Linked DNA regions of Homo sapiens: region 2 is linked to region 1. Evidence: fine-mapped expression QTL. Tissue or cell type: whole blood. Region 1 holds a variant in brackets; the other region holds the start of a gene. All regions are shown on one strand. Distances are from middle to middle.

Region 1 (8,322 bases):
ATTGTTTTAAGTTGTACTTAGCTTTTTGATTCAGTTAATAAATCAACATGTCATTTTATTTGAAAATGAAAGTACTTAAACATCTCTGTGTTTTCATTGTGTTCCTATACTATTTCATTTAATGGAAATAAAATGTTCAATAAAACAAATATCTAAAAGTGGCTCTACTGTACAGCATAATGACTACAGTTAGTAATCTATGTATTCTTGACATAAGAGAGTGGATGTAAAGTGTTCTCATCACTATAATAATAATATGATGAGTTAATACATATGTTAATTAGCTAGACATGTCATTCTGTGATGTATATACTTAAAAACATCATGTGGTACATGATAAATACATACTTTTTTTTCCTAGTTGGAGTCTTGGTCTGTCACCACCAGGCTGGAGTGCAGTGGCGCGATCTCGGCTCACTGCAACCTCCGACTCCCCTGTTCAAGCAATTCTCCTGCCTCAGCCTCCTGAGTAGCTGGGATTGCAGGTGTGCACCACCAGGCCCAGCTAATTTTTGTATTTTTAGTAGAGACGGGGTTTCACCATGTTGGCCAGGATGGTCTGTATCTCCTTACCTTGTGATCCGCCCGCCTTGGCCTCCCAAAATGCTGGGATTACAGGCGTGAGTCACTGCAAAAAGCGGTACTTTTAGGCTTTTAATTTTTATCTTCCTTCAGACATATATACCATTTGTTTCTTAGTAGAAAATTATTGTCATGATCTCTTGACTTACTGAATAGTCAGCTGGATAGTGCATGATACCACGTATTTCAAATGGAAAAATTGTCATCAGTCTATGGTGACTAGTTTTTTGCTTTTAATCACTTTAGGTTTTATAAATTCAATTAAATATGACATTTTTATAAATAAGTGGTAACAAATGGCATATGAAAGAATGCATGCAATGAAGCAGGAATAAATCCATCGCAGGTATTATAATCTGGAAGCACAAAATTGAAAATGGCCACATTAGCACTGGATTATTCAAAATGACAAGGTCATAATTGAGTGGAGTTCATGTTTATAAAGATGCTATAAACAAGACTGATTTTCATTCATAGCCCTGTTTGAGATAGCAAAAGCCTAGAAACAACCGGAGAGTACACCTATGACAGGCTATTTTAATGAAATGTTATGAAGTAGTTAAGAAGAATTATATAGATCTATATGTATTGATATGAAAATATCACTAAAATAAAATAAATAAATATGCAAAATATAGTGCACAGTAGAATTCTACTTGGAATTTTAAAAAGATATGTGCACATGTAATATATGTTATATATATTTCATACAATATATGGTATTAAATATACAAAAAAAATCCTTCTTAACATTGATGACTTGTGATTGAGTGGGTTTCTGCAGTACCTTTTGAATTGTTTGACATGTGCATTGTCTTATGTTTAAAATTCCAAAACAAAAACTCTTGTAAAGGAAAGAATATATAAGATATATAAAAGAGTTAATAGTTTGTTTGCTTATCTTACCTTGATAAAGATGGCAGAGATTTGCTTGCTGTCTCTACTTTTTGGGGATTTCTTTGATTTGAGGTCTAAATAAAAATATTCAGGTTGGTTTACCACAATTAATCTATGCAATATTCTGGGTGACAGGAGCCTTGAGATACTAACATAGAGTTAAAACCATCTTCAATTGCCTCGTTTGCTCCCATTCTAGTTAAATCCCTAAAAGACTACAATAAAGTCACAACTGGATTTATTATGTGAGTAAATGCTTAAAGCAATAAGCAAAATTAAGAAAACTTTAGAAGAGGAAACTTCTCAGAGATACTGCATTTCAGGAAGTGGATCTGCCTTGTGTAATGGCATAGACTCAGGAATGGTATAAGGAGATTACAGGGTCAGAAAGGCCCACCTGAGGGGCAAGAGTGTAAGAGTTCCTCCAGGACCAGAAAAGCCAGGAAACCACAGAAGTTGAGAGTAAGGAACTCAGTTTTAGAGGAGCATAATTTGATCCTCCTAATTAGTTTTGAGAAAAGGGCACTCTATGTTTTAGGCTGGGCCCAGAAAGATGATATTTAAATATAAACTAACTAAAATTATAGCATTTTTTGCTCCAAATTAGAGCATTGGAGGATAAAACTAAAGAGAGTTTGGAATTCTCTACTGAATGTGCTGTCCATGCTAATTGTGCATTTAGCTCTTAAACTTGCTAATTACTGACATGTATGTTTCCCAGCACACTTAGAGTAAATTCTGTTACTAGCCCCAATTACTGTTCAGTGTAAGAATGTGAAGAATTTGAAGATGGCCTGTTCATCTGTTTCTTCCTAATATCTTTCATTAATTCCATACTACCAAAATTAGAGATAAATTTTGCTGGTGGAAGGAGTAAGTTAAGCTATATTTAAAGGGATAGAAGTCAGATATTGAGGTGCTCCTCAAGAGAAAGCCATTTTAACCATGTTTTAAATAAAGCCAGCGTCCCAAACAAACAAGTCCTAGCTATCATTAATGTCCTTTCCAAGTATCAGGTGGCAGTGTTGTCCCTTCACCATGGTAAGATTCCCCAGCCACACTGAGACTCTATTATATTCATTTTGCCCCTCCTCTTTCTTTAGTTTTTTATGAAATTCCTTAGATTCCTTTTATTTTATAAAAATAAAAATGAAATAAAACACATACAGGAATGCAAAAAAAAAAAAAAAAAAGAAGAAGAAGAAGAAGAAGTTCCTGGTCTACTTAGCAATCCTCTGATTCAAAGTTGCAAAGAGTAGCTCTCTCTGCTCAAAGGTAAAACATTCTCCTATCTACATGCAAGAAAGTAAATATTTCTAAGTTTCTTCTGGAAGTCAACATAAATTGCTTCCAGAAAGTCATCACAATCCACACTTACCTTTTTTATTTCTGTATCCCTTTAACACATATAAATTTATAGTATTGTTTATTATTGATATATCATTTTGTAATTAATTTTATGCTTTTATTTTCCAATTGTTTTGTAAACTCCATAAAAATATGAATGTCTCCTACTTCTAACTCCATCTCTAGTCCTGTGTCCTAGTCAGTACATACACATCAAGTGCAGTGCAGATTTGTTATTTTAAAAAATGTTCTATTAAGTACAATGTGACTTTTTCCCTGACCACTCTAAAGTAACCTCTTTCCCTGCTGTATATTTCATCACAACATCCTATTTTATTGTCATCATATACTTTGTGGTATGCTGGTAAATGTTTAACAAGTGGCTCTCTAGAGGGAGAAAAAAAAATTGGAATAGAGTATTTACCAATCCCAATGGTTTAAATACTGCCACCATGGTCAATCAAAAGATACCAATGTGATATAACTGAAAGTGATGTTGAGACAAAATGCACATTATTGGGTCTCACATACAGTGTGAATAGGCTTCAACACATCAATGTTCATGATAATCAATATCTAAGATTATCTGATTGAATGGCTAATTTGTATTTTATCTGTCTCTCTTCATCAAAACTAAGTTCCAGGCACAGAATAGTGCCTAGCATATTGCAGGTGCTTAATTTGTTGGACAAAAGCGTAACTTTTTACTCACTGTTAAATATATTTAAAATGTTTAGATGACAATGGTAATAAACATGTTTTTTAAATTGTTAAAGTTTGTGAGTTCTAATAGTTTAGAAATATCATCTCCTGAGCAAATGTGAGAAGAGACTGCTTTACTTTTAAAAATTAGTTTGTTTAATATTTCTTGTATTTCTAGACATTCGCGAGAGATGTAAATATGAATTTGGGATGAATAAAGAAAAACAAAAAACTAAGCTTTGAATTTAAATTTCATTATTGAAAGATCAGTCATAACTTCTAACTGTGAAAACAGAGAAGTGTTATTTCTTTCGGAGAAAATAAAAAATAATAATAATTAGAATTTCCTTTTTTTTTTTTTTTTTGAGATAGTTTTGCTTTTTTTTTGCCCAGGCTGGAGTGCAATGGCGTGATCTCAGATCACCTCAACCTCTGCCTCCTGGGTTCAAGCCATTCTCCTGCCTCAGCCTCCCGAGTAGCTGGGATTACAGGCATGCACCACCATGCCTGGCTAATTTTGTATTTTTAGTAGAGACGGGGTTTCTCCATGTTGGTTAGGCTGGTCTCGAACTCCCGACCTCAGGTGATCCACCCGCCTTGGCCTCCCCAAGTGCTGGGGTTACAGGCATGAGCCACCGCGCCCACTCTTAGAATTTACTTTTAATATTTTAATTTCATC[C/T]GAAATATTTTAACATCTAACTCTGAATTAGTAACTCTTCATTCTGAAGTTAGTAATTTTTAATGCAGATGCTATGATACAAATATTTTTCTTAGCATAGATTGTATTCATACATTTTATTGTATGGTTGGCACAAAGAAATTAATGAAAGGTTCATTGTATTTCTGTTCATTAATTATATTACCTTCCACCACCTAACTCTCAATAGCTCTATTTAGGCTTGTTTTTTTTTTAATTATACTCCAAAATGAACTGCCGATTTTACCCAAATACACACTGTGCCTGCTTCCTCATCCCTGGCTTTTCTCTCCTGCTCCCTATAAGGCCATTCTCCCTATCCCTGTCTTTTGTAATTCTGACATTATTCTAGATCTAGTTTAGTCATCAATTTATTCATTCTTTGCACAATACTTAGTCACTAATTGCTCTCTTTCTTGTTTGTTTATTGACTTTCTCTTCCTTAGAGAATACAAGCCAAGTGAGAACAGGAAATTTTTCTTCTTCACTGCAATACCCCAATGCCTAGTACAGTGCTTGGCATATAGTCAGTATATTAAGTGTTTGTTGAATGAACAGACAAATAAGTAGTTATCAAAAAAAAAAGATAAACTAAATATAGTAAGATATTCTATGATGGTTTTAAAAAATAAACATTTAAATTTCAAAGTATTGGTTGGCACTTCATCTTAATCTAGTGCTGTTTTGACAAAGCTGTATGAATTAAGAAAGATAACATGTTATCTTGAATCAGTCAAAAACAATTTCTAACACCCAGGCTGAAAGAACTCCAGTTTGAAGGTGCTATTTTCTCATATGAAACTGTGCTCATTATACTTCATTTATAATCTAACTAAACACATTTCCTTGGTATGCTAATGCTCTATGCAAACCTTCTCTAGATTTTGTCATATAATTTTTAAAAATTCAATTAAGTGAAACCGACCTTAACATAGCTTTGAATGATTTTGTTAAGAACAGATTTTATATATCAAATAGGCAGTTGTTTAAATATTAACCTATATGTATATATAATGGAACCAGTATCATAGTTCTTTTGTCCTTTGACCTAACTTCCCTTCATCCATTCCTCTCTCTATGTCTCAAGCCAACACACACACAAAATAAAAGAGAGAGAGAAAAGACATGTGTGTGTGTATATATACATATAATATATCATATATATGTATTAAATATATTTCACATGTATTAAATACATTAATATTATATTAAAATATATTTATAATATATATTTATATCTCTTAAAAATATATATCTTAATAGATATATATTTATATATCTCTTAAAAGATTTTATAACCATATATATACTTATCTGGAATTCTGAAATAAAAGGCTGAAATCACTAAATCTTCAACAACATAGAATAAAGTGTGATGAGGCCCAGCGTGGTGGTTCATGCCTGTAATCCCAGCACTTTGGGAGGCTGAGGAGACGGATCACTTGAGGTCAGGAGTTCGAGGCCAGCCTGACCATAATGGTGAAGCCCCGCCTCCATAAAAAACACAAAAATTAGCTAGGCATGGTGGCGGGCGCCTGTAGGCCCAACTATTTGGGAGGCTGAGTCAGGAGAATCGCTTGAACCCCGCGGGCGAAGGTTGCAGTGAGCAGAAATCGCGCCACTGCACTGCAGCCTGTGCGACAGAGTGAGACTCCATCTCAAAAAAAAAAAAAAAAAAAAAAAAAGAACAAAGTGTGATGTTTCTTAGTGGAAAGCACAGGAGATTGTGAAGCCAGGTGCTACTATTCTTAAGCAAGTTGTGTAACCTCTGTGAGCTTCAGTTTACTTATCTTCAAAACGGCATAAAAATACCTACTTCTCTGGGCTGGAAAGAAAGGGAAAGAGAGACCAACTTAGCACCAAGTCTGGCACATATAAGTGCTCAATAAGTATTTATTGAATTAGTTAACTCCATGAAAATATAGTTACCATTAAACTAAATTTCTACATATCATTTAATGAAAGAGTGTAGTGATTTTGTAACCAAATAGCTAAGATAAAAGCATAATTACAAATATTTTAACAATTCTCAGGTAAATACACAGCAAAGCAACTGGCATGTGACTAGATCAAGTATATCCCTGCATGTCTCAAAACGAAATTCACAAATATTATTGGAGAGATAGTATTTATTCATAAAAACAAATTCTAATGGATAATGAATTTTTATTAATTTTCTACACCTGTGTAGACATAAGCTAAAGGGAATGAACTTTCCACTACTAAAAATAATAACAGATGAATTTATGGTGATTTATGCTTCCTTTTAATTTCTCTTTTAATCTTGATTTAAAAACAACAACAACCCTACAGAGTCAACACAGAGAAAGAATGACAGAGCAAATTTCAAATAGGAAGCTCAAGGCAGAAGTCCAGAAATATGCTATGAAATGTTTAGTCCTGAGGATGCATTAGGAAACAAAAAGACAAAGAAAACTCTACCTTCACTGACACCACAATCAGGGATTTGTGTTGGAATGGGTACAATTTATGACTTTTGGGCTGATGAATCAAGCTGCTTAAATACATATTCCCTAATAAAGGATGTTGTAAAATAACTACATTAGAAGTCAAGGGATTTGTATGTTCTTTTATCCTCAGTTACCGAGTGAGGTTTAATAACTTTGTGCAAAAGCTTGTAACACACTCTGGTATCATTGCGCTCATCTCAACTTCTTTCTGTTGCTTAATTCAGGGCATGTGAATAACGGTAAAAAACCAAAGTTGTTTTTGCAACCTCTGGCCACCGAGGGCACTTCCTTTTAATAGTGCTTAGAGTACTGCACAGAAGCTTATGGTTTGCTCACTGTCTCCCAAGCAAGACTGGGCAGAAAGGGGGCCATCTCATTAATCTTTGCATGGTTAGCACCTAGCACAGAGCTTACCACACGGTTCCAGGGGATGTATGCTTGTATAAATAAATTTGTATATTCTTTACTGTTTTCAAAGCACAGTCACATGTATGACTCCATTAGACCCTCATAAAACTCTGTGAGATTGCAAGGTAGAATTAGTTTCCTCATATGACAGATCTCTGTGACATTGAATGATATTATTTCCATTGTATGACAGAGGAGGAAACAGGATCAGTGAGAGATTGTGTGACTTCCGAAGAGTACATGACTAAGACTCAAATGTCAAGATCAGCATTCTTTCTTAAATACTAAATAAAAATAAACATATCGAACTACTATTTTAGGTTTGTTCTTAGGGTCTGTTAAGTCTATATATGGCCAATCATCTTTGGCTTTCCCACATTGGTGAAATGTTGTTTTTTAAAATTCAATTGTAGACTATAAAATGAAAAAGACCTTCAGAAATCCTATCTGTAATCAGAAGAAAATGGCATCAATTATATGCAAATATTTTGCTATAAAACAGTATCTGCCTTTTAGAGTTTATTGTTAGCCCAAACAATTCAGCTCTGTCACAGGAAACAAGATGGAGGCAGCTTTGTCATTTCCAATCCTGCACCCACAGTCACCCCTATTCAGCTTATAGAAGGTTTCTTTATGTTTCTTGATTTCGTAGTCAGGAAATGAATCCCTACTATGACAAGATAGTGAAAGTAGCCTTTTTATTGGGGCGAAGAGGTCACAGCCAGTATTTGAAGGCTCTCGTAATTTAATCCTGATCAACTGACTCTAAAGTCAGGTTTTTAATAACACCATCTCCCACTAGATTACAGGCTACAGGAAGTCGGAGACTAAATTGAACTCCTAAATCAAGGCGTGGCACAAGGCAATGTAACTCTTCTATCTCAATTCCTGGCATATATGTTAATCAATCGATAAGTGGCATCTCTGAACCACTGGTTAGAAATCAACATGAAAAGTGCTAGGTACATATTTTTCAAACGTAGTCATAGACAACCAAAATCAGTTTGGACATTAAGAGCAAAGTTTTTGTTGCTGGGTGGGTGAGGGGGAGTGGGGCATGTTTACAGGATGTGGTATGTAAAAAATTCGGAGAAAATCTGAACACTGTACTTGTTTCTAAGCTACATTTACTGAATTGGTAATGTATTAACAGTGGCTTGAAAAAGAAAAACTTAGCGATAGAAACTTACCTACACGTTTTTTATTTTGAAGCACTTT
Region 2 (4,000 bases), 140 kb before region 1:
AAAGCAGGGACTAGGTTTTACTCATTGTTGAACACCCAGTGTCTTGTTCACTGTCTGGCACAGAAAAGAGGACCGATCAAATACTATTGAAAAAATAATTGATAGGAAGGGGCAAGGTGCTCAGATTCTAAAGGGAACACCATGTCATCCCCACACACTTTTGAGAGGACTGGGCATGGTGGAGACACAGAACAGGCTCTAGCCAATTCCATTCCAGATTTCTTGCTCTGACCACAGAGCCATTCGTCCACTGCAAACCTGACCATATCATTCCCCTCATCTCATTGCTGAGCAGTGTTTTTCAAACTTTTACAGGAAACATCCTCTCTAATGGCTGGCAGATGAGAGCAATCACACCCCCAGAGGGCAGACACATAAGGAGCCACACTCTAAGAGTATCACTGACTGTGCTTCACCCTCAGTATCTTAGCAAGCTTGATATTTATTCTACAATGTGTCTGCGTTTGTTGTAACGCAAAAAAAATCATGCTTATAACTTCTTATAATTCCAACTCCAGGTGGAAGACTTTACTCCTACCATGACTTCTAACATCACCTGGCCTATATCTATCTGTATTCTTTCTGGGTACCCCATACTGCAGCTTCATATACACAACAGGCCTATGGATCTGATCCAAGCTACTTAGCACAGTACATAAATCCCTTCCGGACCCAGCCCCTGACTCACCACTTCCCCTCCCACCTCTCCAGCCAACACAATCATTGGCAGTCACTGTCTCAGTCACAGTTCAAGCTGTTGTTCACCTCTAGAACTTTGATAATTAGGGCCTTGTCGACTTCGAGAAGACATACCCATCCTTCCAAACCCTTATGGGGTGCGATTTTATTGAAGTCTTTTCTTAACCCTCCCTCCCCATAGTAGGAGGATACTTAGTTATAATTCCCTAGTTTCTTGTACCGCTTGCTTTGTTTACCTAGTATCTCCCTTACTAGACTGTGCGGTCCCTGGAGGCAGGATCTTGTTTTAGTTTTCTTACTATTCCCACTGCCAAAGCAGAACCTTGCCAGTCAGGTAAATCTCCCGTTTATGGGACACTGGGTTCACAATAGGTAACAGGGTCTCTCAAGAGCAGAAGGCAAGAGAACTGACTATGAAATTGAAATGAAACACGAATTGAGGGGTCTGAACACATCTCCAGTTTCAATTTTCTTTCGTGATAGAATGCCAGATTCCAGGTCCCAGGGAGGTCCTGGCGCCCAAAAAGTTACCAGGGATGGGGGATCAGGGTTGGCACAGAAGTCACTCACCACCTGGTAGAGGGCGAGTGTTTGTTCTCCAGCGTTTTGGTCCAGGGCTTGTACCAGCTGATCTGCTCGGCAGCTTTGCCCCAGAACCTCTCGGGGTCGGTCACCGAGGCTGCGAAGTGGGTCTTGTACTCGCTGCCACTGCCGGAGGACAGTGCCCTGCATCCCCGGCCCCCGAGACCGCCCCGCGGGCCCGGGACCACTAAAGCCCTGAGGGCCGCACCGGCTCCCCGGGCCGGAGAGGACCCAGGCAAGGGCCCTCCGAGCCCCCCGGCGCTGGTGACTTTACGACACTGCAGCCAAGACGGTTTCATCTCCTCCGGCCACCCGCGGTCCCCGAGTGTGCGACAAATGGTACTCTTGCAACTTCCTGGGGCCTGAGGGAAGGGAGTAGGGGGCGGGGGCAAATTCCGAAGTGAGCCCAGAGCCCAGAAGTTTGGAAGCCACACTAGAGTCGCCGGGAAAAACCGACCTGGAGCGACCAGAGAAGCAACAGGCTAAAGTGGGGGCCCCGGGACAGGGGTGTCACAGCGCCGTTGCAGCAGGTTAGTTGCGCTGCTGCACGAGATCCAAACCCCAACATGCACTTCCAACCCCGCAGCCTTCCGGGAAAAATCGCGCTCAAACTCCAGAACGTCCTTCCGATTTCAACACACAAGTACTCCTAGGAGGAGGCCAACGGCCCATCTCTCAATTTTCAATCCAGCAGTTTGTACACGGCTGGTTTAATCTTTGGAAGGTCGTTGGTGGAGGTGGCATCGCCTCTGACCTGCAGGAAACCAGCAACTCGGTGCGTTGAGGCAAGGCTCTTTGATTGTTATTTATTGATTGATTGATTTTTCAAAATCAGCTCAGTCCCTGGTTACTAAAAACACAAGCAGCTCCAGGGCAAGGACTGCTCCGGGATTTCCTGACCACTGAGAGGGTAGGAGGAGTGGAAGGAGGTTGTGCCAGACAAATTGGGAAGTGCTTCTTGGGGTGATTGACAGGTCACAGGGAAGGTGACCCCACTGGGATGCGGATTCACCTGCTGACCAGACTCCGCATGTGATCTAGACAGAGAACAGATAGGACTTGTTGCATTGCCTCCCTTCTAATTTGCCTGCTTGGAGTTTCTGTGGCTTTTCTAATGAGAAAACAAAACAAACAAATAAACAAAAAACAAAAATAGGAAGTAAGTAAAGATGAATCAAAAGAGGAAACTGGGAAAATGTAAAAAGAAAGGTGGTATATAGTACTGTCTAGGTTTAACATTCGTCAAGCTCCGCTATTATTCATGCTTTAGCGAGATTCAGATGCAATCTTTTGCCTTAATATTATGCCAAACACATTCTGTCTTGGTGTGACAGTATTTGCAGTTTTAAATGTAAAGATACGTATTTCCAAATCTGAGGTGAGAAATAGTGGCATGCCCCTGACCTTGGGAAGGATCATAACTTGAGAATCCGTAAACAAATGATTCTGCAGGAAAAGAATAATGTGGAGATAAAGGCTAAACAGAACAGAGGTAAGTGCAATGCAAAACAGAGAATATTTCTTTAAATAACCACCTCCCTTTCCACTGAGAGGCAAGGCACTAGACTTTTCCCTGACATCTGCAGTCTACTTTAGTCCTTCCAAAGGTCTCAAATCAAATAATGTCGAATGGCCAAAGACACAGTCACCATTTAAATCCAGAGAAAGTTACAAAGCCATTTAACCTCTTCATCCTTCCAGAACGACAGATTTATTATTGGCACCTAGCATGTGTTCACATTATACTGGGCACTTTAAACAAATGTTAGCTCCTGTAATTCTCATGAAAGTACCAAGAAGTGGGAATCATAATCCCATGTTTACAAATGGAGCTAGTATAGAGATAGATCGACTTGCCCAAGGCCACGCAGCTAGCAAGTGAAACAGTCAGGATTCAAACTTTATGGATGCCCAGTATTTCAAAGCCCAGATGCTTTGAATTACAGATATGCCGTGATACAATTTACTGACACCTCAAGGTGGAGGGCTAGGGGAAAACCCACTCTAATCCTGTCACTCACTCCAGGATACTGTGCAAATACGATCATTTTATCTCTGTGCCACAACTTGAACAAGGAGGGGAATCTGACTCCAAAGTCCACCATTTTAATTCCAGGCTGAGTATCTTCTACTTTAAAAAAAAAAAAAAAATCTTAGAATTCCAGTAAAATATGACAAATTGAATAGCCACATTCATTCTTCTCCTTAAAGAAACTCCACTGAAAGAGAATCAAAGAGGGCGGTTGTCGTGGTAAAAATCCTACAAGGATAAAGAGAACAGGAAAAGAAAAGAAACCAAATGAAAGAATAGAAAGAAGATGAATCTGTGGAATATGATTTAAAAGTGGGAGGAGGAGCTTGTGGAGGAGAAAATAGATTTTCCTAAGGAGAATCCATTTTCTCCTTAGGAACCTGGTATGTCTCAAGTTTTGGAGGTGCTGGGTTCCTCTGAAGGTTCAGAAGGAAGTATGAAGTTCAGAGCTTAAAAACAAGGAACTGATTACAAGATCACATGAGGCAAAGTTAGACCCCCGTATCGCCAGATGAAACCACTTTTTCTGGACCCATCAGTATACCATTTTTTCTTTTGAAAGTAATTGTATACAATAGATTGTTACTGTAAGCTCCATTTCAGGCTGAAGGGAGAGCATAAGTGTAGACACAATCCAGCAAATGCAGTGGGTCTGGTTTTGAGAGTGTTCAGTGTACAGGTAGAGCA

The links. PIP is the estimated chance that this variant, and not a neighbour inherited with it, causes the effect.
Region 2: it holds the start of ACSS3, and the variant in region 1 is fine-mapped to the expression of ACSS3 in whole blood (INTERVAL, PIP above 0.99).

Annotation. Positions count from the first base shown.
Region 1 is chr12:80,938,396-80,946,717 of GRCh38, reverse strand. No RefSeq gene overlaps it. Among named protein-coding and RNA genes, the nearest start is that of LIN7A, 4.6 kb to the right of the region's middle. The variant C/T (reference allele first, on the strand shown) is at 4,208.
Region 2 is chr12:81,075,701-81,079,700 of GRCh38, reverse strand. It overlaps ACSS3 (acyl-CoA synthetase short chain family member 3), which reads right to left and starts at 1,622. Exons shown (of 16, transcript NM_024560.4): 1 at 1,270-1,622. The coding sequence starts at 1,580.